Homo sapiens: one gene and its partners. The protein of the gene in region 2 interacts with the protein of the main gene of each other region in a biochemical or structural test. Each region holds a gene or a part of one and is shown on either strand. Other genes may lie near its edges.

The links.
Region 1: the proteins of LPL (region 2) and ANGPTL3 form a complex in vitro, tested with the Homo sapiens proteins (one study listed by IntAct).
Region 3: the proteins of LPL (region 2) and ANGPTL4 form a complex in vitro, tested with the Homo sapiens proteins (one study listed by IntAct).

Annotation. Positions count from the first base shown.
Region 1 is NC_000001.11:62,600,520-62,606,813, reverse strand, and holds the end of ANGPTL3 (angiopoietin-related protein 3 preproprotein), read right to left. Parts: intron 5,733-6,294; coding exon 5,618-5,732; intron 5,046-5,617; coding exon 4,932-5,045; intron 4,530-4,931; coding exon 4,434-4,529; intron 2,846-4,433; coding exon 2,579-2,845; intron 2,182-2,578; coding exon 1,997-2,181; 3' UTR 501-1,996; downstream 1-500. UniProt on the Homo sapiens protein: Acts in part as a hepatokine that is involved in regulation of lipid and glucose metabolism. Proposed to play a role in the trafficking of energy substrates to either storage or oxidative tissues in response to food intake.
Region 2 is NC_000008.11:19,932,686-19,944,913, forward strand, and holds the start of LPL (lipoprotein lipase precursor), read left to right. Parts: upstream 1-6,567; 5' UTR 6,568-6,755; coding exon 6,756-6,843; intron 6,844-12,228. UniProt on the Homo sapiens protein: Key enzyme in triglyceride metabolism.
Region 3 is NC_000019.10:8,364,420-8,375,795, forward strand, and holds the end of ANGPTL4 (angiopoietin-related protein 4 isoform a precursor), read left to right. Parts: coding exon 1-220; intron 221-1,534; coding exon 1,535-1,645; intron 1,646-1,782; coding exon 1,783-1,900; intron 1,901-4,799; coding exon 4,800-4,913; intron 4,914-6,636; coding exon 6,637-6,732; intron 6,733-6,821; coding exon 6,822-7,103; intron 7,104-9,231; coding exon of another isoform or gene 9,232-9,285; coding exon 9,286-9,467; 3' UTR 9,468-9,951; downstream 9,952-11,376. UniProt on the Homo sapiens protein: Mediates inactivation of the lipoprotein lipase LPL, and thereby plays a role in the regulation of triglyceride clearance from the blood serum and in lipid metabolism. May also play a role in regulating glucose homeostasis and insulin sensitivity.

The DNA of each region.
Region 1 (6,294 bases), on a different chromosome or scaffold from region 2:
TTTTGGAACTTTATTCATGGTAAATAAAGGAGTCCGTGAGAGCAGATAGAATGTCTGAGGGTCAGTGTAGAAAAGATGATTGAAGGTTGTCCATTGGCCCACAGTACTAAATATGAGAAAGGAATAGGGTTATAAAGATGGATTCAGATAAGGGATAATCCATGGAGAGTATAGTATTGTGAAAGCAAAATGAAGGTCAAGTTTGAAAAAAAGATATTCTTATTATTAAGTAGTAGAGAGATAAAAGGGAAGGTAGTCTGAGAGATCAAAGGGGATTAGACTTAGATTAGACAACTGTGAGTAGTGATGGAATTTGAGCACTTTAAGCAAAGTAGTTAGGACAGGAGACAGTCGTGTGAACCATAAAGAGCTCCTTTCTCTTCTTCTACCAGAAGTATCTTTCTGGTAGAAAAAAGCTTTATATGGGGAAAACGTCTAATTTACTACTCCTGAAAGGAACAAAATGAAACATGTCCTATGAGAGTTTTTTTTTTTTTTAAGGAAACCAAATAGAGGAAGCAACTCATATATTAAATAATGAATTATTTTGCATTTGAAATTGTCCAATTTTGGGGGAAGAGAGGAGCCATTTTGGTATTCTGGCCCTAAAAAAATCAGCGTTAATTTCGACAGCTTAGTCTGTGGTCCTGAAAATTATAGATTATTTTTACCTTTATTATTTTGTACTTTTCTGGAACAAAATATTTACTTAGGATTCACATAGATCATACATATCTTTTATATATGTGACATATAAAAATATATATGACATGTATATTGGATAATTTGAAATACATAATGCTAAGTATTGACAAAGGTAGGTCACCATATAACTTGGGCACTATATCCTTTAACAAATGGGTTTAATTTAAAATTTCTTACTGGCAGTTTTAAAAAATCATATTTAAAAATAAATTCTGACAAGTGATACTGTGGTAAAAAATTTGTATCTAATCTTTAGGGATTTAGGGATTTAGGGATCTGTTGTGATGTCGATAAACATGCAAGAATAATTTAAATTTCTATAATTTAGGGACTGGGTCTTTGTTTATTGAATTTTAAACATATATACATGCTTGTCAGGCTGTTTAAACGTTCAGTAACTTGTTACGAGGTTTATTTCTACTTGAAAACCTACACGAATGTATTAGAATCACAGCATATTTAGGGGAAATATAAACTTTAACTCGATGCCACAAATATGTTCATTCTTACTGTAATCTGACAAGATTCCTTTACAATTATTTGTTTTCATAGTATTAAGTGTTAAAATATATAAAATGTATACAGTATATATTTTAACAAATAAGGTATAGTGATACCTCATGTTAAAGTCAATGTGACTTAGTAGTCATCTCCATTTGTTTAAAGACAGCGAACTTATTTTAATACAGTATTTAATTCTGCTTCATTAGGTTTCATAAATAAATCATATCAAACATTTACTCCAAATTATTTTGTAGCAAAATGAAGCATCAGTTTAAAAATTTGTATTACAGATTTTTACACATACTCTGTGCTGACGATTTTTAGTTTTGAAATTAATACTACAACATTTAAGAACTGTACAATTACCAGTCCTCTGTATTTAGTCAAGTTTAGAGTTTTAACAAGAGTACTAGTTTTTTAAACTGGGAAAGTTGTGATATTAGCTCATATGATGCCTTTTAAAATAAAAGTCTCTAAATTTTTTATTTAGAAAAGTTATTTAATAAGTTCACCTATTGATTATAATCTAGATTGTGACCATCTAAAATTGATTCCCACATCACAAAATTTAAAACAAATAGTATTATAAGAATTTTGATTGAGAAATGTAAACGGTATTCTTTAAGGTTATGTGATTGTATGTTTAATCTTAAATAGACAGTGACTTTAAGATAAAAAAAATCTATTTCTCAAGCTTTCTCTTAAGGATTTAATACCAGATTATTAGACCACATTAACTTGGAATGAGGTTAATGTTTAAATTATTGCCTTTTAAATTTGCCTCAGTTCATTCAAAGCTTTCTGAATCTGTTGGATGGATCAACATTTTGGTTGATTTTATAGAGTATAACCTTCCATTTTGAGACTTCCAAGATAATCCTCTTCTCCTCTCTGGCTTAGATTTTGCTCTTGGTTTGTTATATTTACCATTTAGGTTGTTTTCTCCACACTCATCATGCCACCACCAGCCTCCTAAAGGAGATAGATATGCAATTTAATGGGTACAGACTCGTATGTAGTTACTGTTACTGTATTTCCCCGTAAGTTTATCTTCCTTTCTTATAAATATTACAGTGTTTTAGATGCATGTATCCCAGTTTTAAATAATCTGTATAAGTCCCAATTTTAAATAATCTGTATAAATAATCTATACACTACCAAAAAATAGAAAATCTGAGGAAGATTAGAGGTAAAATACCTGATTGAACTAGAATGAACACTTTCATTATAGTTAAGAGGTTTTCGTCTAGAGAGAAAACGCTTATTTGGGATTCGGATTTTTAAAAGTTGTCATTGCAGATAATAGCTAATAATGTGGGAAGATACTTTGAAGATATGAAAATAAAGTATTGGTATCAGAAAAAGATACCTGAATAACCCTCTGGACAGTTGAAGTGTCCTTTTGCTTTGTGATCCCAAGTAGAAAACACCAAATCTTTGTTTTCCGGGATTGCATTGGGGACATTGCCAGTAATCGCAACTAGATGTAGCGTATAGTTGGTTTCGTGATTTCCCAAGTAAAAAGAATATTCAATATAATGTTTGTTGTCTTTCCAGTCTTCCAACTCAATTCGTAAAACATAATTAGATTGCTTCACTATGGAGTATATCTTCTCTAGGCCCAACCAAAATTCTCCTGAAAAGAAAAGTTTTAAAAATCTGTGAGTTATTAAGTACAGGTTGGACACTGACAGTTTTTTTAAGTGTTTTTTATTGGTGCAACTAATTGAGTTGTTTAGTCTTGAATCCCTTGATCATTTTAGTGTATCTTAAAATAATACCTTTTAAAACAATTTTATTGAAGATAGCTATGTGCACAAAAATGTTAAAAATATTAATATAACTGAAAGTCTGATTATCCTTTCTATAATGCATATGACAAGACATGTTTCACCAGTGAAATGTGTTACATTATTATAGATATTTTAAAGTCTCGTCATTGGTAGAGGAATATTTGCAAGTCTTTATATGGATAAACTTTACTGTCAGCTATTTATTAACATCCATATACAGTCAAGAGATGTGTTAAGTATTCCTAGAGACTTGAGTAATAATAATGTCACTTTCTTCAAATGTAAACCTGGCCTTTGGTATTTGCTTAATGTATGCTTTCTTTGTAGAAAAAGACAGGAATAAATTTAAAAAATCATTTTAAATTTAAAAGCATGGTTCTTAATAACTTTTTTCTGTAATTTTAAAAATTATTTTTATTGGAATTAAAAACAAATAACAAATATAAATAGATTGTTCTTCATCACAATCCTTTTTATTAAAGTATTTATAAAATACTGTTTTCATTAAACATTCACTATTGTCTTATTGCTATTGAGTTAGTAGGAAGCTTCATTTTAAGGATTGCTGGTAAATACAAGTACAAATGGGTTGCTTTCTTACCAGAATTAAGTGAGTATTCTCGACTTACCTGTCAGCCTTTTATTTTGGGGTTACACTCACTATTAGAAGATTTGGAGCTACAAAACTTATCACTGAGTATACCTTCTAGGTAGGGCTTTCACTGGTAGTTTGAATACAAAATTTTTAAATGGTCAAATAGTACTGAGCATTTAAAAATTTGATATAATAATGAATGTCTTCTACTTTATAAGTGAGTACTTAGACATCATTCATGGATTTTTGTATGTGCTTTTTGGATTTTAAACATCTGTTATTTTATCTTGCTTATTTTACTATTTGTAATCAAAATAGAATAATTTGCATTGAGTTAACTAATTCATTATAAGCCATACATTCTATATATTATATTTAAATAATTGAAATTTTAAAATGTATACTGTATGTCTGAGTTTCCTGGTCCTTTTAACTTCCAATTAATTGATATGTAAAACGTTAATGAGAGAATAGAGTGACTAATGCTAGGAGTGGTTCTTTTCACAGCTTATTTGTAACAGTTACTACTTATGACATAACATTTAATCAAAATTGTCTTTAATAATTATAGTTATGATCATTGTAAGCCGTGGAATTAAATTGTGATAAGTATATTTAAGAACAGACATGTAATTGTGATAAATATAATTCAAATAATAACAGTTGTAATAAGTGTAATTTACTAACAAATGTGTAATTGTTTGATAATAAATTATATGAAGGCTGAGACTGCTTCTCGTTCGTTACTACTTTTCCTAATACCTGGTCCATAAGAGGTTCTCAGTAAATATTTGTAGATTAGCAAGTGAATGAATGATTGAATGTAGTCCCCTTACCATCAAGCCTCCCAAAACCATATTTGTAGTTCTCCCACGTTTCATTGAAGTTTTGTGATCCATCTATTCGATGTTGAATTAATGTCCATGGACTACCTGAATATAATGAATGAAATCATGTATTTTTAGTAGATTTATGTTGACAGATGTAAATAACACTTTTTTGTTTGTTTGATTTTAATTGGTGGTTTTGTAAGGTAGTTTATTAATGTTATGGCAATACATTTTATTATTTATTATGGTCCCAAAAGTTAAGTGAAAGGCAATTAATGAATTTTGGCATAGTAAACTTATTGATAATAGTCACTTCAGATTATTTTAGAGGAAAAGGAGAATATTGAGTAAATACATAAACAAGGTAAAAGTATTATATTTATACGAATACTCATATATATTTCATATATATATGTATAAAACAATGATAACCAGGTTAATCTTCCTAATACGTAATGAGTAAGTTGAACTAACTACTGTCTATTCTCCTTAGACAGGTTTTACCTGATATAACATCACAGTAGACATGAAAAACTTGAGAGTTGCTGGGTCTGATGGCATACATGCCACTTGTATGTTCACCTCTGTTATAAATGGTGGTACATTCAGCAGGAATGCCTAGAATCAATAAAATGTTATTACATCAGATTTAGTAATAGGAATAATATCTTTGGAGCTTGAGATTTCACTTGACATTTTATGAAGTTGTGGCAAATGTAGCATTTTTTCAGTAATGTTTATGTTAAAGCATTTTTCTTAGATGGCGTGTTATTTAAGAATGTAAGAATCATCTTACCAAACTATTTTCTTTTAAAAAATTAATTATTTTTTAGAGACAGAGTCTTGTTCTATCACCAGTCTGGAGTCCAGTGACCTTTAACTCCGTAAATATTTCAGCATGTATCTCTTAAACAGGAGATTGTTCTCCTTTAAAACTGCAATACCATGATCACATCTAAGAAAATTAATAAACCTTCTATATTATCTAATAATCAAGTCCATATTTGTATTTCTCTGATTGTCTTAGGTATGTCTTTTATAGGGTGTAAAAAGAACCCCAGCATCCAGTTTAGGTTGATACATTGTATTTGATGGATATCTCTTAACTATCTTTTAGTCTAGAACAAGTCCTAAGAATAGGGAATTTGATAATAATAGCTTCAAGAAGGAAACCCACCAAAGTGTCTTACCATCATGTTTTACATTTCTTATTTCATTCAACTGAAGAAAGGGAGTAGTTCTTGGTGCTCTTGGCTTGGAAGATAGAGAAATTTCTGTGGGTTCTTGAATACTAGTCCTTCTGAGCTGATAAAAGAATATAAATCTGTTTTTTAAAATGATACTGAATATACAATTAGGGGAAATCTGAGTAAGGATGTCAGAAGTACAGTTTGTCTTTCAGTTCATAATGTTATAACGGTGTTTGATATTTAGATAAACAGTGTTATTCAGATTGTACAGATTACCTGTTCTCAAAATATTTAATCAGGGACATTATTTAATAAGATAAAAAAATAAAGCAAGGCAAAAAAGCAGACATTGGTCGGAAAACAGAGCAAGGCCAAAAGTAGAGACTGCTTTGCTTAGAATATTGTAATGTATTCTTTTATTTATATGAATAAAATATATTTGATATTCTGTTCAGATTTTAAGTTTAATAATTTTCAGTTTTAGGTCTTACTGATCTTCAGACCTGTGATAAAGACATAATACATAATTTGAACCAGGCTTTCTTGATAATTTGATAATTTTTGACCTGTAAACATATCTGTAGATGTTGGCAGGTTGGCAAGTTTGTTTGCTTACTTTCTATATATTCAGTAGTTTATCGTTAGTTTAGCAGTAACATTTTATTTTTATTTAAGTG
Region 2 (12,228 bases):
AATAATAATGGGAGACTTTAACACCCCACTGTCAACATTAGACAGATCAACGAGACAGAAAGTTAACAAGGATACCCAGGAATTGAACTCAGCTCTGCACCAAGCTGATCTAATAGACATCTACAGAACTCTCCACCCCAAATCAACAAAATATACATCTTTTCAGCACCACACCACACCTATTCCAAAATTGACCACATAGTTGGAAGTAAAGCACTCCTCAGCAAATGTAAAAGAACAGAAATGATAACAAACTGTCTCTCAGACCACAGTGCAATCAAACTAGAACTCAGGTATAAGAAACTCACTCAAAACTGCTCAACTACATGGAAACTGAACAACCTGCTCCTGAATGACTACCGGGTACATAACGAAATGAAGGCAGAAATAAAGATGTTCTTTGAAACCAACGAGAACAAAGACACAACATACCAGAATCTCTGGGACACATTCACAGCACTGTGTAGAGGGAAATTTATAGCACTAAATTGCCCACAAGAGAAAGCAGGAAAGATCTAAAATTGACACCCTAACATCACAATTAAAAGAACTAGAAAAGCAAGAGCAAACACATTCAAAAGCTAGCAGAAGGCAAGAAATAACTAAGATCAGAGCAGAACTGAAGGAAATAGAGACACAAAAAACCCTTCAAAAAATTAATGAATCCAGGTGCTGGTTTTTTGAAAAGATCAACAAAATTGATAGACTGCTAGCCAGACTAATAAAGAAGAAAAGAGAGAAGAATCAAATAGATGCAATAAAAAATGATAAAGGGGATATCACCACCAATCCCACAGAAATACAAACTACCCTCAGAGAATACTATAAACACCTCTATGCAAATAAACTAGAAAGTCTAGAAGAAATGGATAAACTCCTCAACACGTACATCCTCCCAAGACTAAACCAGGAAGAAGTTGAATCTCTGAATAGACCAATAACAGGCTCTGAAATTGAGGCAATAATCAATAGCTTACCAAACAAAAAAAGTCCAGGACCAGATGGATTCACAGCTGAATTCTACCAGAGGTACAAGGAGGAGCTGGTACCATTCCTTCTGAAACTGTTCCCATCAAAAGAAAAACAGGGAATCCTCCTTAACTCATTTTATGAGGCCAGCATCATCCTGATACCAAAGCCTGGCAGAGACAGAACCAAAAAAGAGAATTTTAGACCAATATCCTTGATGAACATTGATGCAAAAATCCTCAATAAAATACTGGCAAACCGAATCCAGCAGCACATCAAAAAGCTTATCCACCATGATCAAGTGGGCTTCATCCCTGGGATGCAAGGCTGGTTCAACATATGCAAATCAATAAACGTAATCCAGCATATAAACAGAACCAATGACAAAAACCACATGATTATCTCAATAGATGCAGAAAAGGCCTTTGACAAAATTCAACAACCCTTCATGCTAAAAACTCTCAATAAATTAGGTATTGATGAGACGTATCTCAAAATAATAAGAGCTATCTATGACAAACCCACAGCCAATATCATACTGAATGGGCAAAAACTGGAAGCATTCCCTTTGAAAACTGGCACAAAACAGGGATGCCCTCTGTCACCACTCCTATTCAACATAGTGTTGGAAGTTCTGGCCAGGGCAATCAGGCAGGAGAAGGAAATAAAGGGTATTCAATTAGGAAAAGAGGAAGTCAAATTGTCCCTGTTTGCAGATGACATGATTGTACATCTAGAAAACCCCATCATCTCTGCCCAAAATCTTCTCAAGCTGATAAGCAACTTCAGCAAAGTCTCAGGATACAAAATCAATGTACAAAAATCACAAGCATTCTTATACACCAATAACAGACAAACAGAGAGCCAAATCATGAGTGAACTCCCATTCACAATTGCTTCAAAGAGAATACAATACCTAGGAATCCAACTTACAAGGATGTGAAGGACCTCTTCAAGGAGAACTACAAACCACTGCTCAAGGAAATAAAAGAGGATACAAACAAATGGAAGAACATTCCACGCTTATGGCTAGGAAGATTCAATATCGTGAAAATGGCCATACTGCCCAAGGTAATTTATGGATTCAATGCCATCCCCATCAAGCTACCAATGACTTTCTTCACAGAATTGGAAAAAACTACTTTAAAGTTCATATGGAACCAAAAAAGAGACCGCATCGCCAAGTCAATCCTAAGCCAAAAGAACAAAGCTGGAGGCATCACGCTACCTGACTTCAAACTATACTACAAGGCTACAGTCACCAAAACAGCATGGTAGTGGTACCAAAACAGAGATATAGATCAATGGAACAGAACAGAGGCCTCAGAAATAATGTCCTATATCTACAACTATCTGATCTTTGACAAACCTGACAAAAACAAGAAATGGGGAAAGTATTCCCTATTTAATAAATGGTGCTGGGAAAACTGGCTAGCCATATGTAAAAAGCTGAAACTGGATCCCTTCCTTACACCTTATACAAAAATTAATTTAAGATGGATTAAAGACTTAAATGTTAGATCTAACTGCATAAAAACCCTAGAAGAAAACCTAGGCAATACCATTCAGGACATAGGCATGGTCAAGGACTTCATGACTAAAACACCAAAAGCAATGGCAACAGAAGCCAAAATTGACAAATGGTATCTAATTAAACTAAAGAGCTTCTGCACAGCAAAAGAAACTACCATCAGAGTGAACAGGCAACCTACAGAATGGGAGAAAATTTTCGCAACCTACTCATCTGACAAAGGGCTAATATCCAGAATCTACAATGAACTCAAACAAATTTACAAGAAAAAAACAAACAAACCCATCAAAAAGTGGGCGAAGGATATGAACAGACACTTATCAAAAGAAGACATTTATGCAGCCAAAAGACACATGAAAAAATGCTCACTGGCCATCAGAGAAATGCAAATCAAAACCACAATGAGATACCATCTCACACCAGTTAGAATGGCGATCATTAAAAACTCAGGAAACAACAGGTGCTGGAGAGGATGTGGAGAGATAGGAACACTTTTACACTGTTGGTGGGACTGTAAACTAGTTCAACCATTGTGGAAGTCAGTGTGGTGATTCCTCAGGGATCTAGAACTAGAAATACCATTTGACCCAGCCGTCCCATTACTGGGTATATACCCGAAGGATTATAAATCATGCTGCTATAAAGACACATGCACATGTATGTTTATTGTGGCACTATTCACAATAGCAAAGACTTGGAACCAACCCAAATGTCCAACAACGATAGACTGGATTAAGAAAATGTGGCACATATACACCATGGAATACTATGCAGCCATAAAAAATGATGAGTTCATGTCCTTTGTAGGGACATGGATGAAACTGGAAAACATCATTCTCAGCAAACTATCACAAGGACAAAAAACCAAACACCACATGTTCTCACTCATAGGTGGGAATTGAACAATGCAAACACATGGACACAGGAAGGGGAACATCACACACTGGGGACTGTTGTGGGGTGGGGGGAGGGGGAGGGATAGCATTAGGAGATATACCTAATGTAAATGACAAGTTAATAGGTGCAGCACACCAACATGGCACAGGTATACATATGTAACAAACCTGCACGTTGTGCACATTTACCCTAAAACTCAAACTATAATAATAATAAAATGTTTTAAAAATTCAATAGATTTTACAATATTTTTAAATAATTATGACTTTGTATTTATACATTTTATTTGTATTAGTATGTTTTCTTACATTAATTATACTTTTTATAAGGACAAGATCCGACTCAGTACTGATGTTCTTTAGAGCCTACTTACACATTTCATTGTATTTTACTTTAGTAAGAAAGCCACAAAATAAAAATCTACATTAAAATATGTGTGTACAAAAAAAATCTGATTCCCAGCCTATTCCTGTTTGCAATTGCTGCAACATTAAAATATAGCACATCAAATACATATTTGCTTCTCGGCTAGGATCGCCAAAGAAAAAACATCTTATGATTTGTGGTTGCTGTTATTTAATCTTCCCTGAGCTTCATCTTCCCTCATCTGTAGAAGGGGAATATTATTGAGTTTGGAGTGCTTTTGTAATGATTAAACACAGTAGAAGATGAAAAGTGCCCAGTGCAATTAGCAGGCCTTCAATCAAAATAAGCAAGCTAGCTAGCTAGCTGGCTGGCCAGCTAAATAATGCTTCCCTACATCCAGAATTTCCAGTTGTTTCATTAGATATGCACATTCAAGTTTTTACTTAGGTAATTTTAAATGTGTCCCAGTGGCAAGTGTCCTGCTAAAGGGGTACTGTTAGCTTCTTCTCACCTAAAACTTAGTTTGTTACAAAGGAAATGCCAATTATGGAAAAAGTCAAGCCTTGAGCTACTGAAGGCCGAGTAACCTCGCCAAAGTTTGGATGAGTCGCTTCACTAATGCACATGCAATCCTGACCTAGAGATCATGTGAGTTTCTGCGTTAGAAGGCGGGCACCTGATGGCTCCCAGTGCAGCCAATCAGGAGAGAACGTTGCCGCCACACCCACCTGCTCCGCGCTGGCCCTGGGAGAGGAGCCAACCTGTCTTGCTTTTTTTTTTTTTTTAACCAGGCTAAGCTGCTGTAAATTAAGTCTTCCTGGAAATCTCAGCAACTCTATTGGACGTGCTAATGGCACAGTTCACTCCAAACTGGATTCATATTTAAATATTACATATCCTCCAACTCTTGAGTGCTTTAATTTTGTTATCTGGTTAGCCTGGGAAATCATTTTAAAAATACGCTATAAGTATCAGACTTTCCCTTAGCAATTATATAAAATCTCCTTGCAGTTTTCTGAAAGGCACAGAAGTGCAGTTTGATTTGGTTGTCTTATCAAAGGACATTTATGCATGAAAATAGGCTGCAGGAGTATTCTATATAAGATAGCAGGCAGTTCTGCACGTCTGTTTATATGCCATTCACACCATGAACACATCCAATGCAATTGTATTCATCTTCTGTCATTTTTTAAAATTAGAGTTTACTACATGATTTTTGGAGGACGGCCATATCATAGTTATTCATCCCTTGCATGGTCTGTTCTGCCACTTCTAAAGTTCTGCGAAGTTTAATTTTTGGCAGGTTTCAAGATTCTCTACATACTTTGTAGGTTAGAGTGAACGTGCACAGTATATTGTGTAATAATTGCAATACAAGACGGTGTGTTGTGTTGTGGCACGGAATGCATCAACTTAAAGATAGAATTGTTATGCAGAATAGAGACCTTTGAAATATTTGGGTATTATCAACTTTTATTTCATTTTTTGAGAAAAACTTAAAAAGTGAGCCCAGTTTTTTAAAAAGCATTTCATTGTTCTAACCTACAATTGTGCATTGTATGTTTGTGTGTGTGTGACGGAGGGTGGGATGAATAAAAGGGGACATTAAAAATATTCAGACCATAAATATAGTAGATTGGAGGTTCTGATTTGATGAGCCAGTTTCTCAGCCATAAACTGAGAGGGGGTTGGGGATACACTTCATTGTCCTTCCTGGCTAATGTAAATCCCTTATATTTAAAAAGATATTTAAAAGTATTCCAAGCATTTTGGCAGAAAAGCATAGTATCTAATGTTATTTTTTTCTTATTTTATGTGCATGCCTCTTATCCATTTAAAAATAGCTTTACTGACCTATAATTTACACACTATATAATTCTCCCATTGAAAGTGCATAATTCTGTTGCTTTTAGTATATTTACAGAGTTGTGCAGCATCAGCATAATGTAATCTAGAACATTGTCATCAACTACCCCCAAATCTCTATTCTTCCCTTCCCCTATTAATTACCCAGCCCCAGGCAAGCACTGATCTACTTTTGGTCTCTATGGATTTGTCTATTTGTGGACACTTTAAATGGAATCATACAATATGTGTCTTTTGCGACTATCTTCTTTCACTTATCATAACTCAATACGGCTTTAGATTATTTGACCTCGATGTTCTGCCTCTGAACATAAAATATTATCCTTGCATTCCTTGATGAGTTTGAGGATTGAGAATAATTTGCATGAGACAAAAATTAGAAACTAGTTAGAGCAAGTAGGCTTTTCTCCATCACATAAGCTGATCCATCTTGCCAATGTTAAAACACCAGATTGTACAAGCACAAGCTGGGACGCAATGTGTGTCCCTCTATCCCTACATTGACTTTGCGGGGGTGGGGATGGGGTGCGGGGTGAGTGAGGGAGGACTGCAAGTGACAAACAGGATTCGTCAAAAGAGAGGTGTATTAAAGTGCCGATCAAATGTAATTTAACAGCTAAACTTTCCCTCCTTGGAAAACAGGTGATTGTTGAGTATTTAACGTGAATCGATGTAAACCTGTGTTTGGTGCTTAGACAGGGGGCCCCCGGGTAGAGTGGAACCCCTTAAGCTAAGCGAACAGGAGCCTAACAAAGCAAATTTTTCCGTCTGCCCTTTCCCCCTCTTCTCGTTGGCAGGGTTGATCCTCATTACTGTTTGCTCAAACGTTTAGAAGTGAATTTAGGTCCCTCCCCCCAACTTATGATTTTATAGCCAATAGGTGATGAGGTTTATTTGCATATTTCCAGTCACATAAGCAGCCTTGGCGTGAAAACAGTGTCAGACTCGATTCCCCCTCTTCCTCCTCCTCAAGGGAAAGCTGCCCACTTCTAGCTGCCCTGCCATCCCCTTTAAAGGGCGACTTGCTCAGCGCCAAACCGCGGCTCCAGCCCTCTCCAGCCTCCGGCTCAGCCGGCTCATCAGTCGGTCCGCGCCTTGCAGCTCCTCCAGAGGGACGCGCCCCGAGATGGAGAGCAAAGCCCTGCTCGTGCTGACTCTGGCCGTGTGGCTCCAGAGTCTGACCGCCTCCCGCGGAGGGGTGGCCGCCGCCGACCGTAAGTTTTGCGCGCAAACTCCCCTCCACCTGCAGACCCGGCGGGTGGCCACTGCCACCCGAACTGAGGATGAGAAGAAGGAAGTTGGAAGGGGCGGTGGATGCGCCCAGGGACTCTCCCAGCCTGGGCTCTAGCCCCGAAACGGTCCCCGGAGTGGGATCCAGGAGGGGCCGGGAGGGAATCTCCTCCCGATCGTGAAGCGGCGGCGCCCAGTTCCCGCTTTTTCTCTCTGCCGGGTTCCCGCGCTATCCCTTCCACTCTGGCTGGGACCGCGTTCCCGGGCTCGCAGGCTCCGCCGGGGAGGTTCCGGGGTGTGGGGGCCGGGACGGCGGAGGCGGGGAGTAAGGGCCCGGCTGGCGGTGACCTGCAGTCACCTCTCTGCCGGAGGGGCCCTGGAATGAAAGGCGCGCGGGCCAAGGTGACCTCGCCTTGGTTGGCACTGCGGCTCAGCCCCCGCCCGGGGACTCGCGGGCCGACTGTGGCCCCTTCTGGGGAAGCCGGGGCGCGGGGAGGCGTTCCGGGCATCTCAGCCGCACGGGGTACGCTCGCCCTCGGCGGGGCCCCTCGCTCCGCTGTGGGAGTGGCAGTGGGTGTCGGGGTGGAGAAAGTACGCGTGGCGCGGAGTCCTGGGGACGCGGCGTCCCACCCGCTCTGGGGAGCCCCGGACTCTCTCCAGCTTCCAGGCTCGCATGCCCCTCTTTTCTTAGTGCCCTGAGAACCCAGCGAGGGGCTGACCCTCCCGAAACCGTGGCGCAGCCACCAGCAATCTGTGGTCGCCGACTCGGGGGGTTGCCAGGTCTGCGTTTGGCCACCCTTTCTGTCCTGGGGGCTGAGGTCAGCTCCGGGCGCCCGGCCCCGCCGCGCGGCTGCGAGCACGTGGGGTTGACGGGCGCCGCGTGGAGGCAGCGAGCACAACGGTGGTCACCGCCGCCAGGGAACCGCCCGCTCGCTGGGGTCCAGGCGTTCGGGGCCAAATGAGAATGTCTCAGACCTGTCCGCAATGGAGGCAGCCTGCTTAATTCGAACCTCGATTCAGTAAACATGCAACAGCAGCATAGAGAGCAGCTGAAGCCATTCATAACACGGGACAACATTTCCTTTTTTCTTCCATGCTGGAATTGCAATTAGGGCGGTGTCGCTTGGATGTGCTCTCAGGCGGCACGTCCCCAGCGGTTCAAGTTATAATAGAGTCTCTCCATAGCTTTGATGGCCGCTAAACGTTTGTTTTATTTTGGCATTAATTTGTGAAACATTTTTGTTAGGTTAAAAAACAAAAAGTTGGCAGGGAGCAGTGGCTCACCCATGTAGTCCCAGCACTTCGGGAGGCCGAGGCCGGAAGACAGCTTGAGCCCAGAAGTTCGAAATCAGCCTGGGCAACATAGGGAGACACCGTCTCTATAAAAAAAAAATACAAAAATTAGCCGGGCGTGGTGGCCTGTGCCTGTGGTCCCAGATAGTCAGCAGGCTGAGAGATCACTTGAGCCAGGGAGTTTCAGTAGACTGCAGTGAGCTGTGATTGCCCCACTGCACTTCATCCTGGGTGACAGTGAGACCCTGTCTCATAAAATTAAAACAAAACAAAACAAACACTAAGTATAGATTCCATCAAAGCAAAATTGGATAAGAAAAAAAGTATCTTTTCTATTGGATCAGTTTGAAAACACTGGAGAGTTGATGAGAAAGTCTTCAACATCTTAGGTGGGGTATGTTTCGTATGTTTCCCTTCGTACTGCTTAATGCTGACAAGAAGATGGTAGGAGCCAACTCCAAATTCTTATTTCAGAAAGCACACCATAGAATAACGTCATTTTCATTGCAAAACAAGCACCGAAATATGTCATCACATTCAAGTTTTTCCTAGGCTCCCTTACAGGTTCAAGATCCTAAATTCTTGGGAGTCAGTGTCACCTCTCTGGGTTTAGGTTCCTCAACTCTGCAATGAGTTTGGATGAGGCCAATGTTCTCTGAGCCTGGTGTAACTCTTGCCTCTTTAAGTGGACACTTATGTGATTAATTAGTTTAATTGAGTTGTAGCCAACACATGCTTTTCCTAGCTGTAAATATATTAAGGAAGGATTATTTCCAAGTAGACTGGAAACGATGCCCTCCCATCCCCTCCACTTTCACTCTACTCACCCAATATATCATGCCTCTCCCATCACAGCAACTTTCTCCCTCTTTCTCCTCCAGATGCATTCATCTAGGAAGGTAAGAATTTCAGGGAGAGAAAGATGTCACCGTGGTAGAAAGACAGGGATCACCTCCTCTGGGCTCTTGAGTTTACTTATTCATTCTGGATTCTTTCTAACAAGAATATGAGGACAAGAGGCACTGTCCTCAGGCACTTCGTCCTGGGAGCCACCACCATCTCTGCATGGCCCCAATTAGGAAACGTGAAGAGCTAGGAGAGGGAGAGTATGGTCAGTGCTTAGCAGCTGAAGTTCCACTTGCCTGGCCATCGTGAATTTCCAGGCTGTCTTCTGAGTTGAACATGATGGCAAAGGAGAGCAAAATAGCAGATGTCACTGAAGGAGAGCTCAGCGAGGGAGTGATTGATTAATAGCTGTATTGAAAGGTGGGAGTCAGGTACGGGGGAAGAGCGGCGATGGAAAATTTTCGCTTTCTTTCAGCAGCTTATTTTTAACTCAGCTTTCTGTTCTTGCTTTATTATGGAGGAAAAATTGGGCCATAGAGTTTACTGCCTTATGCCAGATTGTTCAAGAAAATGCCTTGCAACTTACAATATTTTGCAGCTAGTTTCTTCCGTGACCACCACAAAGACTGCATTGACTTAAATATGAAGATGTTCCAGCCATCAAAATGATGGTTGGTGATGATTTTGGATCACAAAGTGTAAGGAAAGTATTCAAGACATGAGTATCATGATTTTTTAAGGTCTGGATGAAGAGACCATTTGGATTTACTAATAAGGTAAATTCCAACTTTTATGGCAATAAAAACAACAAAAACACTTATCAGTGTAAAGCTTTGGGATCATCTATCCATTAAATGAGTTTGTCACCACAGTGAACTAAATACCTTTTATCAACAGAGACTTTCTAACCTGGGAGTAAAATTCTTGTCACAGTGCTTTTGTCACATTCTGTCTTTGCAAAAGTTGAAGGCTCCAATAGTTTCTGAAGGACTAATAGGATAGGGTTCCAACTTACTCAGAGGCTAAGAGTTTGAAATTTACTCTGAACGATGTCTGTTCACTAGACTGCGTGACTGCAGTTTGCTGTCTTGTGGCCATTTTAAGATTGTCTGTGTGCACTGACACCATTTGCGTACTCAACAACAGGTATCTACTAGGAAGGAAGGAATGGATTATCTTAGGTGCTATATATATATGTAAGTTCTGCCGGAAGTGAGCCTATTAAACTTGTGCCAATTCATTCCTTTTGCTCTTCCCAGTCTGTGCTCTCAGAATGATCAAATGCTATCTAAGTAGTGTGGTGATTTTGACTGTTTGAATGAATAAACGAAAACGTCTCCCACCATTATTTGACAGTAGAATAGAACAAAGATGACCCAGTTGGCGTGGCCACACTGTGTCTAATCCAGCCACCTTGCTCACAGCACTCAACCCACTTTGGTGTGTGCGCTCATCTGTATTTTCGTAAATGTTGAAGTCTCTTTCTATGCAGTCAGGTAGGGGTAATACCATTCTGGCTTGGATTAATTTGAGTGTAGTACAAAGTTTAGAGAAGCTTTTAAGTAGCATGAAAAGTCAGATGCTTTCGGAGGGATGGTGGTGAATGTAGGTAAATGGATCTGCACTTAGAGATCCTCAACAGCCCTTCATTCAAGATACAGCTATCATGACATCAATAATGTACCTTTGAAAAAAAATTGGCTGCAGAATTAATTACGGTGAAAAACAGTATAGGAGTTAGCACTTACATTTTAACTAAAAAGAATAGCGTCCCCATGTTTATTCAGCCCTCCCTCCAATAAAACAATTGTTGGCAAAGTAATCATGGACTTTCATTGTGTTAGTTTGAGACAACTGGATGTTTCCATTTGCCATCCTCAGCAACAAGAAGAAAGTAGTCTCAGATTAACCAGGTAAGTATTTTGTATTTCACTTAAAAAATCTTGACTGAAATATGCCTATGTGATGACACTCAACCAAATTATTTCATTAACCAGTCCACAAGATCTCCTTAAATAATGATGGCTTATTCACACTTGATGGTCTCATTCAGTGGGGCAATTTTAATACACATCTCTGAACCTATTTTTTAACCCCTCTTTTTCAGTAGTGTGGAAGGTTAGCCCTAATATTGGAGAAAATTCAGGGTAAAATTCAGATGATTCATACAGGATTTATTTTTCCTATTCCATTAATAAAACAACTTTTATAAAAATAAAAAGTAGGCTGGCACAGTGGCTCACTCCTGTAATCCCAGCATTTTGGGAGGCCGAGGCGGGTGGATCATGAGGTCGGGAGTTCAAGACCAGCGTGGCCAGGATGGTGAAACCCCATCTCTACTAAAAATACAAAAATTAGCCAGGCGTGGTGGCAGGCACCTGTAATCCCGGCTACTCGGGAGGCTGAGGCAGAGAATGGCTTGAACCCAGGAGGCATAGGTTGCAGTGAGTCACGATCGTGCCACTGCACTCCAGCCTGGGTGACAGAGCAAGACTCCGTTTCAAAAAATAATAATAAAATAAAATGAAATAAAGTAAAGCTGCATGTTAGAGAAGTCAAGAGCATTACTTACGTTAGAATATCTGAACAGACCAATCAATTCAGTCTGATCATGATATTGATGTTTTTCTTCACCAAATCGACCACATCAGTAATTCACTTTGTTCTTCGATATCCTACAGACACTGCCTGAGTCGATAACTATGACTATCAGTCTCAGAGAGCAAATGAATTACTGAGGAAGCCCTGTAGGAGTGAGAGAAAAGGGGGGAGAGAGAGAGAAAGGGGTGGGGGGATAACAGGAGAACAGAAATTCCAAAGAGAATTGCATTCTCATTGAGTTCTTGTACCTCATGTCATTGCATAAATGTTCATCTTACTCACGTGATGACTTTGATCTGCCTTTAAAGCACCATCTGCTGCTTTCCTGGGATGCTCAACACTTCCCTCTTTCTAGCAACAAGAATTACCACTCTTCCCCTCTATACATTTATCTTTCTCTACGTGCTTTAACTTCTCAGCCTAATTTCGTCTCTGTGAGTTATTATCTATGTTAGAATAAATTCTTTGTCTTTGTTTACACACTCAGATTTGTAGTTATTTATTTAGGAATTTAGGAATAAAGATTCCATAGTCAGGAAAGGCACAATTTATAACTTGCGTGTTACCCAAAACTCTCCCCTAAGGGCTTAATATGGACATTTCTGACGAGGCCTGATGGGCAGGTGGTA
Region 3 (11,376 bases), on a different chromosome or scaffold from region 2:
GCGCTTTGCGTCCTGGGACGAGATGAATGTCCTGGCGCACGGACTCCTGCAGCTCGGCCAGGGGCTGCGCGAACACGCGGAGCGCACCCGCAGTCAGCTGAGCGCGCTGGAGCGGCGCCTGAGCGCGTGCGGGTCCGCCTGTCAGGGAACCGAGGGGTCCACCGACCTCCCGTTAGCCCCTGAGAGCCGGGTGGACCCTGAGGTCCTTCACAGCCTGCAGGTACGTGTCCCCAGGGCTGGTTCTCCGCGCCCCTAGTGGCTCTCCTGGCTTGGAAGGGTATGGACAGGAGTGGGGCGTGGGGGCGGGGTGCGCAACTGTGGCTCCCTGGGCTTCCCTGCGTCAAGGGATGGGCTCCCCCCTTAGGAAGCCGAGGAGGGAGGTTCGCTCAAGGCCAGGAATTCAAGACCACCTAAAGCAAAATAGCGAGACCCCCGTCTCTTCTACACACACACACACACACACACAAAATAAATAAAATAAAATAAAATAAATATAAAATTAAAAAACGACCGGGCGCAGTGGCTCACGGAGCCTCCACCTGCTGTCGAGACTAGCCTGGCCAACATGGAGAAACCTCGTCTCTACTAAAAATACAAAAAATTAGCCTGGCATGGTGTGCATGCCTGTAATCCCAGCTACTTGGGAGGCTGAGGCAGGAGAATCTCTTGAACCCGGGAGGCAGAGGTTGCAGTGAGCCGAGATCGCAGCACTGCACTCCAGCCTGGGCAACAGAGTGAGACTCCTCAAAAAAATAATAGCGATAAAATAAAAATAAAGCCAGGTGCGGTGACTCACGCTTGTAGTCCCAGCACTTTGGGAGGGCGAGGCCAGTGGATCACCTGAGGTCAGGAGTTCAAGACCAGCCTGACCAACACAGTGAAACCCCGTCTCTACTAAAAATACAAAAATTAGCTGGGTGTGGTGGTGGGCGCCTGTAATCCCAGCTACTGGGGAGGCTGAGGCAGGAGAACCTCTTGAACCCGGGAGGCGGAGGTTGCAGTGAGCCGGGATCATGCCATTGCACTCCAGCCTGGGCGACAGAGCTCGACTCCATCTCAAAATAATAATAATAATAAATAAAATAAAATACAAATACAAAAATTAGCCAGGTGTGGTGGCAGCTACTTGGGAGGCTGAGACACAAGAATCACTTGAGTCTGGGAGGCAGAGGTTGCAGTGAGCCAAGATTGCGCCACTGCACTCCAACCTGGGTGACAGAGCGAGACTCTGTCTGAAAAAATAAAAAATAAGCCAGGCATAGAGCTGCATGACTGTAGTCCCAGCTACACAGGAGGCTGAAAACAGGAGGATCGCCTGACCCCAGGAGTTGGAGGCTGCAGTGAGCTGTGACAGCACCACTGCACTCCAGCCTGGGCGAGAGAACGAGACCCCGTCATTGGGAAAAAAAAGAAAAAAGAAAGACTCCCTTGCCTGGCCTCAGCGGATGGAGATTTGGAAGGATGGATGAGTGGATGAATTAAGAGGTTGGGGTAGGCAAGCTGGGTCCTCACCAAGGTTTTCACCCCTCCCCAGACACAACTCAAGGCTCAGAACAGCAGGATCCAGCAACTCTTCCACAAGGTGGCCCAGCAGCAGCGGCACCTGGAGAAGCAGCACCTGCGAATTCAGCATCTGCAAAGCCAGGTAACCCTAGGATCAAGGGAGAAAAGGTCCCTCTGATAGCTGGACCCCAGGTTGAGAGGGAGGTGGTGAGAACTGGACGTGTGGCTGGGGACGTGGGGCCAGGCAGGACCTGACACCCTCCTCCCGTCCCATCCTAGTTTGGCCTCCTGGACCACAAGCACCTAGACCATGAGGTGGCCAAGCCTGCCCGAAGAAAGAGGCTGCCCGAGATGGCCCAGCCAGTTGACCCGGCTCACAATGTCAGCCGCCTGCACCGTGAGTGTCTGCCCCTCGATGCTCTCCGGTGGCCACCCCTACCCCGCCACTTGCCATTGCTGGTCCTCTCCTTGTCAGGTCCACCTTAAGGAGAAGATGTCCTGGCCTGGAGTCCCTGAGGGCTCACCAGTCTCTGGGTCAAAGCTGATGGGAGCACCTCCTTCCTCAGCCCTGACCTGGCCCAGCCAGGCCACCCAACCCTTCTCCTCTGCAAGCCAGTGGGCTGTCCCTGAAGCCCTGCTGATCACTGATTGGAACAGAGGTGGAGAAAGAGGTCTTGAGGGACTTGAGCTGCAGGGGTGCTGGAGAAGGTAGAAATGGGGTTCGGGGTGCCATCCTGAAGGTTAGAACCTTCTAGGGGAGGGTGTCATGGAGGAGGGGGTGCCAGGTAGTAGTGTTTGTAGATTTGGGCCCTCCACAATGTCTTGGGGTATGTGGGAATTAGGGCTGGGAACCCCCAGCTCCCAGACCAGAAACACTCTTGTATCTTACAAATCCAATGCTCCAGGTCCCTGACCCCTCTTCCTCCTTCCTCTCTTGTTCTCCTCCTCCCTCCCCGCCCCCGCCGGCCCCCTCCCCACCGCAGAAAGTGGGCTTTTGCTGCCACCACAAGTTGTAGGTGCTTTATTCCCAAATCTCCGTTCATCTCGAACCACAGCATGTCCACGTGTGTCCGATGCAGACTCGCGGTTCTCTAAGTTCACGGCCCCACACGGTTTCTCTGTGGTCCTCATCCTTCCCTGCATCTGTGGCTGTCCACAGCCAACTGGGTGAAAGTTTGGATCCCCCTCTCACACCCTAGGGTCAGTGGCAGGCTTCCAGCACTGTAGACCTGAGGGTTCTCTCCTCCCCAAGCTCCCGCTCCTTCCCACCTCCGTGCTGCCCGCCCCCAACCCCGCCAGGCTAGCATCTCAGCGTGGTCAGGGTCCTGTCCACCCTCCCAAAGCCACCATCCCAGGATGAGGGGCTTCTGGAGGGTGACGGGGGAAGGCACAAGTCCTGGCTGGGAAATGCGGTGGAAGGGGGCAGGGGTTCTGTGGGTTCGGGACTCCCAGACTCTTGGCTCAGGCCCGCCAAGTAGGAGAAAGTTCAGAGCTGGGAAGGCGAACAGCTGGCATTCATGGAAGCCACACTGGTGGTTTGGCCGCGTGCCCATCCTTACTGGATGGGAGGAAAGTAGGGGAAAGGGGAGATGCCTGAGGGGCCGGAAAGCGTCTTCCTGGTCACTCTGGGCCCGCCCCCACCCCCACCGTGCAGACTCATTTCGACCTTTCCCCTACTTTTCCGGCTGGGCTGGGGGCGGTTCCTCCCAGTCTGGAGCGTCTGAGCCTCCAGACGTGCTCAACGCCATCCTCCCCTCCTCCCTCCCTCTTTCTTTCCTCAACCCTGCCTCCTCTCCCTCTAGGAGCTGGGACCCCAGGCAGAGCCTCTGAGATGCTCCTGCTCAGCACAGTTCTTCCCGTTCTGGACCTGCTGCCTCATTCATTCATTCATTCATTCATTTGTCAAGACTGTTTTGTTTGCTTTTTGAGACGGAGTCTCGCTCTGTTGTCCAGGCTGGAGTGCAGTGGCGCAATCTCAGCTCACTGCAACCTCTGCCTCCCACTGGGTTCAAGTGATTCTCCTGCCTCAGCCTCTCAAGTAGATGGGATTATAGGCGCCTACCGCCACCACGCCCAGCTAATTTTTATTCATTTATCAAGTCTTTTTTTTTTTTGAGACAGAGTCTCACTCTGTCACCCAGGTTGGAGTGCAATGGTTCAACCTCAGCTGACTGCAACCTCTGCCTCCCGGGTTCAAGTGATTCTCCTGCCTCTGCCTCCTAAGGAGCTGGGATTACTGGCGTCCACCATCACACCCAGCTAATCTTTGTATGTTTTACTAGAGATGGGGTTTGGCCATGTTGACCAGGCTGGTCTCAAACTCCTGACCGATCCGCCCGCCTCCCAAAGTGCTGGATTACAGGCATGAACCACTGCGCCCGGCCCATTCCTCAAGTCTTTATTGAGCAGCTGCTATGCGCTGGGGCCTGCGTGGATGCTGGTGCCAGGCTGTGGGCAGAGCTGCTCCTTGTCCCCAGCCTCATGGAGCCTCCATTGAGTCAGAGGAGAGACCATTAGATGACCTCAGTGTCCAGGAGTGGGAAGTCCTTGCTCAATTCCCATTTGGGGTGTTCTGGCCTGGTCTGGGGGTGAGGCAAGGCAGGGTGTCCTTCCAGAAGCTGGGACCCAGAGAGAGAAGTGAGGAAAGAGAGTCCCGCCGGGCGCAGTGGTTCACACCTGTAATCCCAGCACTTTGGGAGGCCAAGGCTGGCGGATCACGAGGTCAGGAGATCGAGACCAGTCTGGCCAACATGGTGAAACCCCCGTCTCTACAAATAATGCAAAAACTAGTCGGGCGTGGTGGCACATGCCTGTAGTCCCAGCTGCTCCGGAGGCTGCGGCAGAATTGCTTGAACCTGGGAGGCGGAGGTTGCAGTGAGCCAAGATTGCGCCACTGCACTCCAGCCTGGCGACAGAGCGAGACTCCGTATCAAAAAACAAAACAAAAAAAGAGAGTCCCAGGCAGGGGGAACAGCATGTGCAAAGTCCCTGTGGCAGGACGGTGTGTGGTACAAGGGTGGGAAGAAAGCCTGTGTGCCAGAGAGGGTGTGGGTACAGCATGGCAGGAGGAGGATGGGCACGGGGGCTGGTCCTCCAGGTGCCTTGTGGACCATGCTGAGGAAGGACATAGGGAGCCATGGAAGAGGTTAGGCAGATGGCAGAGAGGTGGTCATGAGATAAGATTTGCCTTTTACTTCCCTGGTCATCCACTGTTAAGCCCCCAGATATGCCTGGCTCCTGAGACCCCCCCCAGGGGCTGCCCTCCTGTTTCAAGTCTCCACTTTATCTCCCTTCAGGGCTGCCCAGGGATTGCCAGGAGCTGTTCCAGGTTGGGGAGAGGCAGAGTGGACTATTTGAAATCCAGCCTCAGGGGTCTCCGCCATTTTTGGTGAACTGCAAGATGACCTCAGGTAGGGTGTGTTAGTCCACCAGGGGCCCCTCTCCCCATAGGCCCTGTTGTCTTTCTTTAAATTGAAAACAAAACAAAACAAAAAAATTAAAGGCAGGGTCTTGCTATGTTGCCCAAGCTGGTCTTTTTTTTTTTTTTTTTTTTTGAGATGGAGTTTTGCTCTTGGAGCTGGAGTGCAATGCCACGATCTCAGCTCACTGAAACCTCCGCCTCCCGGGTTCAAGCAATTCTCCAGCGTCAGCCTCCCCAGTAGCTGAGACTACAGGTGCGAGCAACCACACCCAGCTAATTTTTGTATTTTTAGTAGAGACTGGGTTTCACCATGTTGGTCTGGCTGGTCTCAAACTCCTGACCTCAAATGATTTGCCGACTTTGGCCTCCCAAAATGCTGGGATTATAGGCATTAGCCACTGCTCCTGGCCTCTTTTCTTTAAAATGCAGCCCTTGTCTGGGTGTAGTGGCTCATATCTGTAATCCCGACACTTTGGGAGGCCTATCATGAGGATCACTTGAGCCCAGAAGTTCGAGACCAGCCTGGACAACATAGTGAGAGCTCATCTTTACAAAAAATTTTGTAAAAGTAAAAAAAAAGGCCAAGTGCAGTGGCTCACACCTGTAATCCCAGCACTTTGGGAGGTTGAGGCAGACAGATCACGAGGTCAGGAGTTCGAGACCAGCCTGACCAACATGGTGAAACCCCGTCTCTACTAAAAATACAAAAATTAGCCGGGCATGGTGGTGTGCACCTGTAATCCCAGCTACTCAGGTGGCTGAGGCAGGAGAATCTCTTGAACCTGGGAGGCAGAGGTTGCAGTGAGCTGAGATGACGCCACCGCACTCCAGCCTGGGCGACAGAGCGAGACTCCGTCCCCCCATCAAAAAAATAAAAAAGAGAAAATAAAATAAAATAAAATAAAATTCAGCCCTTGCTGGGCATGGTGGCACATGCCTGTAGTCCCAGCTACTCGGGAGGCCAAGGCAGGAGGGTCACTTCAGCCCAGGAGTTAAAGGCTGCCGTGAGCCGTGATCACACCTGTGAATAGCCACCGCACTCCAACCTGGGCAACACAACAAAACCTCGTTTCTAAAAAAAAACAAAGGCTGAGCACGGTGGCTTACACCTGAAATGCCAGCACTTTGGGAGGCTGAGGCGGGCAAATCACTTGAGGTCAGAAGTTCAAGACCAGCCTGGCCAACATGGTGAAACCCTATCTCTACCAACATAAACATTAGCCGGGCGTGCCTGTGATTCCAGCTGCTTGTGGGGCTGAAGCACAAGAATCGCTTGAGCCCCGAAGGCAGAGGTTGCAGTGAGCTGAGATTGCGGCACTGCGATCCAGCCTGGGCAACAGAGTGAGACTCCATCTCTAAAAAAAAAAAAAAAAAAAAAGAAAGCTTTTTTTTCCACTGAGAAGTCCTTTCCATTACAAGAGGTTACAACACGGGGTTTTACCCAGTTCAGCTGGCCCAGAGAGGCTTTGCAGATTTCCACTGCCTACTCCCTCCCACACTCAGTCCCTGCTGGGTTCTTGGGACAAAGATCTTCCCAAGGCCAGCCCATAATATTCCTCCCTCTGACCCACCCTCCTCGAGTCCTCCAGGGATGAGTGAGGGAGCTGCTGTCTTCCTGGGTTTGGAGGGGGTTTGGTGCTTGGCAGCCAGATGAGGGAGTGGGGTCGTCTGTGAAGAGGGACTTCCTGGTGACCTTGTACCTTTCTGGGCAGATGGAGGCTGGACAGTAATTCAGAGGCGCCACGATGGCTCAGTGGACTTCAACCGGCCCTGGGAAGCCTACAAGGCGGGGTTTGGGGATCCCCACGGTAGGTGTTTCTAGTGGGGACAGAGGCAGGGGAGGAAGAGGGACCCTCAGAAGTGGCCCTGCCTCATGGAGTGGCCTCTCCCACTCCAGGCGAGTTCTGGCTGGGTCTGGAGAAGGTGCATAGCATCACGGGGGACCGCAACAGCCGCCTGGCCGTGCAGCTGCGGGACTGGGATGGCAACGCCGAGTTGCTGCAGTTCTCCGTGCACCTGGGTGGCGAGGACACGGCCTATAGCCTGCAGCTCACTGCACCCGTGGCCGGCCAGCTGGGCGCCACCACCGTCCCACCCAGCGGCCTCTCCGTACCCTTCTCCACTTGGGACCAGGATCACGACCTCCGCAGGGACAAGAACTGCGCCAAGAGCCTCTCTGGTGAGCAGGCCCTGCCATGCCACACCCAGCCAGCAGCTTCCCTCCTTATCTTTCTGCTGCTCTGTCCTGCCTTCAACCCCACATTGCATCTGTTTCCTGCCCCCACCTCTTCCTTACATGCCGTGTGTGTGATTGGGCCACTAACTTAGCCTATCTGGCCTCAGTTTTCCCATCCTGAAAAGGGTCTTGACCGTCTTTACTTTTATTTACTTATGTGTTTGTTTATTTATTTATTTATGTATTTATTTTTTGAGACGGAGTCTCACTTTGTCACCCAGGCTGGAGTGCTTTGTGGCACGATCTTGGCTCACTGCAAGCTCCACCTCCTGAGTTCACACCATTCTCCTGCCTCAGCCTCCCGAGTAGCTGGGACTATAGGTGCCCACCACCACGCCTGGCTAATTTTTTTGTATTTTTAGTAGAGATGGGGTTTCACCGTGTTAGCCAGGATGGTCTCGATCTCCTGACCTCGTGATCTGCCTGCCTCAGCCTCCCAAAGTGCTGGGATTACAGGCGTGAGCCACCGCGCCCGGCCTACTTATTTATTTTTTGAGACAGAGTCCCGCTGTGTCTCCCAGGCTGGAGTGCAAGTGACGTGATCTTGGCTCACTGCAGCCTCCGCCTCCTGGGTTCAAGTGATTCTCCTGCCTCAGCCTCCTGAGTAGCTGGGATTACAGGTTCCCGCCACCATGCACAGATAATTGTTTTGTATTTTTAGTAGAGACGGGGTTTCACCATGTTGGCCAGGGTGGTCTTGAACTCCTGACCTCAAGTGATCTGCCCACCTCGGCCTCCCAAAGTGTTGGGATTACAGGCGTGAGCCACAATACCCGGCCACAAACATCTTTATAATGGTGCTCCACAGGATTCTTTTTTTTTTTTTTTTTTTGAAACAGGGTCTCACTCTGTTGCCTAAGCTGGAGTGCAGTGGTGCGATCTCGGCTCACTGCAACCTCCACCTCCCGGGTTCAAGCAATTCTCAAAAAAAAAAAAAAATTAGGCACGGTGGCTCACACTTGCAATCCCAGCACTTTGGGAGGCTGAAGCGAGTGGATCACTTGAGCCCAGGAGACCAATCTGAGCAACAGGGCGAAATCCTGTCTCAATTAAAAATACAAAAAACTAGCTGGGCATGGTGGTGCCTGCCTGTGTTCCCATCTACTTGGGAGGCTGAGTTGGGAGGATCTCTTGAGCCTAGGAGATAAGGCTGCAGTGAGCTGAGACTGCGCCACTGCACTCAAGCCTGGGTGACAGAGTGAGACCCCTGCCTCAAAAGAAAAAGAAAAAATGCAGGCATGGTGGCTCACACCTGTGGTCCCAGCTACTTGGGAGGCCCAGGTACAAGAATCACTTGAGCCCGTAAGGTTGACGCTGCATTGAGCCATCACCACACCACTGCACTCCAGCCTGGGCAATGGAGCCAGGCCCTGTCTCAAAAAAAATTGTTTTTAAACTTAAAAATAAGGCCGGGTGTGGGGGCTCACACCTGTAATCCCAGCACTTTGGGAGGCCGAGGTGGGTGGATCACCTGAGGTCAGGAGTTCAAAACTAGCCTGGCCAACATGGTGAAACCCTGTCTCTACTAAAAATACAAAAATTAGGCCAGGCGCAGTGGGTCATACCTGTAATCCCAGCACTTTGGGAGGCTGAGGAGGGTGGATCACATGAGGTAAGGAGTTTGAGACCAACCTGGCCAACATGGTGAAACCCCCTCACTACTAAAAATACAAAAACTAGCCAGGCGTGGTGGCGGGTGCCTGTAATCCCGGCTACTCAGGAGGCTGAGGCATGAGAATCCCTTGAACCTGGGAGGCAGAGGTGCAGTGAGCCGAGATTGTGCCACTGCACTCCAGCCTGGGAGATAGAGTGAGACTCAGTCTCAAAAAAAAAGACCAAAAATTAGCCAGGTGTGGTGGCAGGCGCCTGTAATCCCAGCTACTCGGGAGGCTGAGGGAGGAGAATCACTTAAACCTGAGAGACGGAGGTTGCAGTGAGCTGAGATCGCACCACTGCACTCCAGCCTGGGTGACAGAGTAAGACTCAATCTCAAAAAAAAAAAAGTCAAGTCCAAAGCCCAGCCTGGTCCCCAACCTGCCTCATCCTCAACCCTATCCCTATCTCCTTTCAGCCCCATCGGTGGCTCAAAGACCTGACCATGTTCCCTCTCCCCTGACCCCGGCAGGAGGCTGGTGGTTTGGCACCTGCAGCCATTCCAACCTCAACGGCCAGTACTTCCGCTCCATCCCACAGCAGCGGCAGAAGCTTAAGAAGGGAATCTTCTGGAAGACCTGGCGGGGCCGCTACTACCCGCTGCAGGCCACCACCATGTTGATCCAGCCCATGGCAGCAGAGGCAGCCTCCTAGCGTCCTGGCTGGGCCTGGTCCCAGGCCCACGAAAGACGGTGACTCTTGGCTCTGCCCGAGGATGTGGCCGTTCCCTGCCTGGGCAGGGGCTCCAAGGAGGGGCCATCTGGAAACTTGTGGACAGAGAAGAAGACCACGACTGGAGAAGCCCCCTTTCTGAGTGCAGGGGGGCTGCATGCGTTGCCTCCTGAGATCGAGGCTGCAGGATATGCTCAGACTCTAGAGGCGTGGACCAAGGGGCATGGAGCTTCACTCCTTGCTGGCCAGGGAGTTGGGGACTCAGAGGGACCACTTGGGGCCAGCCAGACTGGCCTCAATGGCGGACTCAGTCACATTGACTGACGGGGACCAGGGCTTGTGTGGGTCGAGAGCGCCCTCATGGTGCTGGTGCTGTTGTGTGTAGGTCCCCTGGGGACACAAGCAGGCGCCAATGGTATCTGGGCGGAGCTCACAGAGTTCTTGGAATAAAAGCAACCTCAGAACACTTTGTTCTTTGTTCTTGTTTGTTTTCTTTCTTTTTTTTCTCTTTCTTTAGTTCACAGATCTAGTAAGTTACCCTCAGTTTGTTTTAAAAAGTGAACAAAGTCCATGTAAACATGTTCCCAGGGCCAGGCACGGTGTCTCGTGCCTGTAATCCCAGCCATTTGTGAGGCCGAGACAGGCAGGTCACTTGAGGTCAGCAGTTCGAGACCAGCCGGGCCAACATGGTGGAACCCCCATCTCTACAAAAAAATACAAAAATTAGCCGAGCATGGTGGTGCACGTCTGTAGTCCCAGCTACTCTAGAGGCTGACGCAGAAGAATCACTTGAGCCAAGGAGGCAGAGGCTGCAAATAAGCCGAGATTGCGCCACTGCACTCCAGCCTGGGCAACAGAGCAAGACTCCATCTCAAAACAAAAATAATTTTTTTTTCGTAGAGGCAGGGTCTCATTCTATTGTCCAGGCTGGTCTCAAACACCGAGACTCAAGGGATCCTCCTGCCTTGGCTTCACAAAGTGATGGGATTAAAGGTGTGAGCGCCACTGCACCCACCCCTGAAGGCTCTAATTCTACATCTGTGTTTTGTTAAAAAAAAAAAAAAAAGATGGCGTGGTCGCTCATGCCTGTAATCCCAGCACTTTAGGAGGCCGAGGCAGGTGGATCATCTGACATTACGAGTTCCAGGCCCGCCTGACCAACATGGTGAAACCCCGTCTCTACTAAAAATACAAAAATTAGCCGGGTGTGGTGGCGGGTGCCTGTAATCCCAGCTACTCAGGAGGCTGAGGCAGGAGAATCACTTGAACTCGGGAGGTGGAGGTTGCGGTGAGCAGAGATCATGCCACTGCACTCCAGCCTGGGTGACAGAGCAAGACTTGATTTCAAAAAAAAAAAAAAAAAAAAAAAGAATAGGGCTGGGCGCATTGGCTCACACTTGTAACACTAGCACTTTGGGAGGCCAACGAGCGGATCACCCGAGGTCGGGTGATCCCGCTGTATTGCTCTATATAGTGAGATCCCTATATAGGGTCTCACTCTATTGTCCAGGCTGGTCTGGCCTGGCCAATGTGGTGAAACCTCATTTCTACTAAAAATACAAAAATTAGCTGGGCATAGTGATGCGCACCTATAATCCCAGCTACTCAGGAGGCTGAGGCCGGAGAATTGCTTGAACCCAGGAGGTGGAGGTTGCAGTGAGCCGAGATGGCGCTGAGAGGTGACAGCGTGCTGGCAGTCCTCACAGCCCTCGCTCACTCTCTGCGACTCCTCTGCCTGGGCTCCCACTGTGGCGGCACTTCAGGAGCCCTTCAGCCCACCGCTGCACTGTGGGAGCCCCTTTCTGGGCTGGCCAAGGCCGGAGCTGGCTCCCTCAGCTTGCAGGGAAGTGTGGAGGGAGAGGCGCGAGCCGGAATCGGGGCTGCGCGCGGT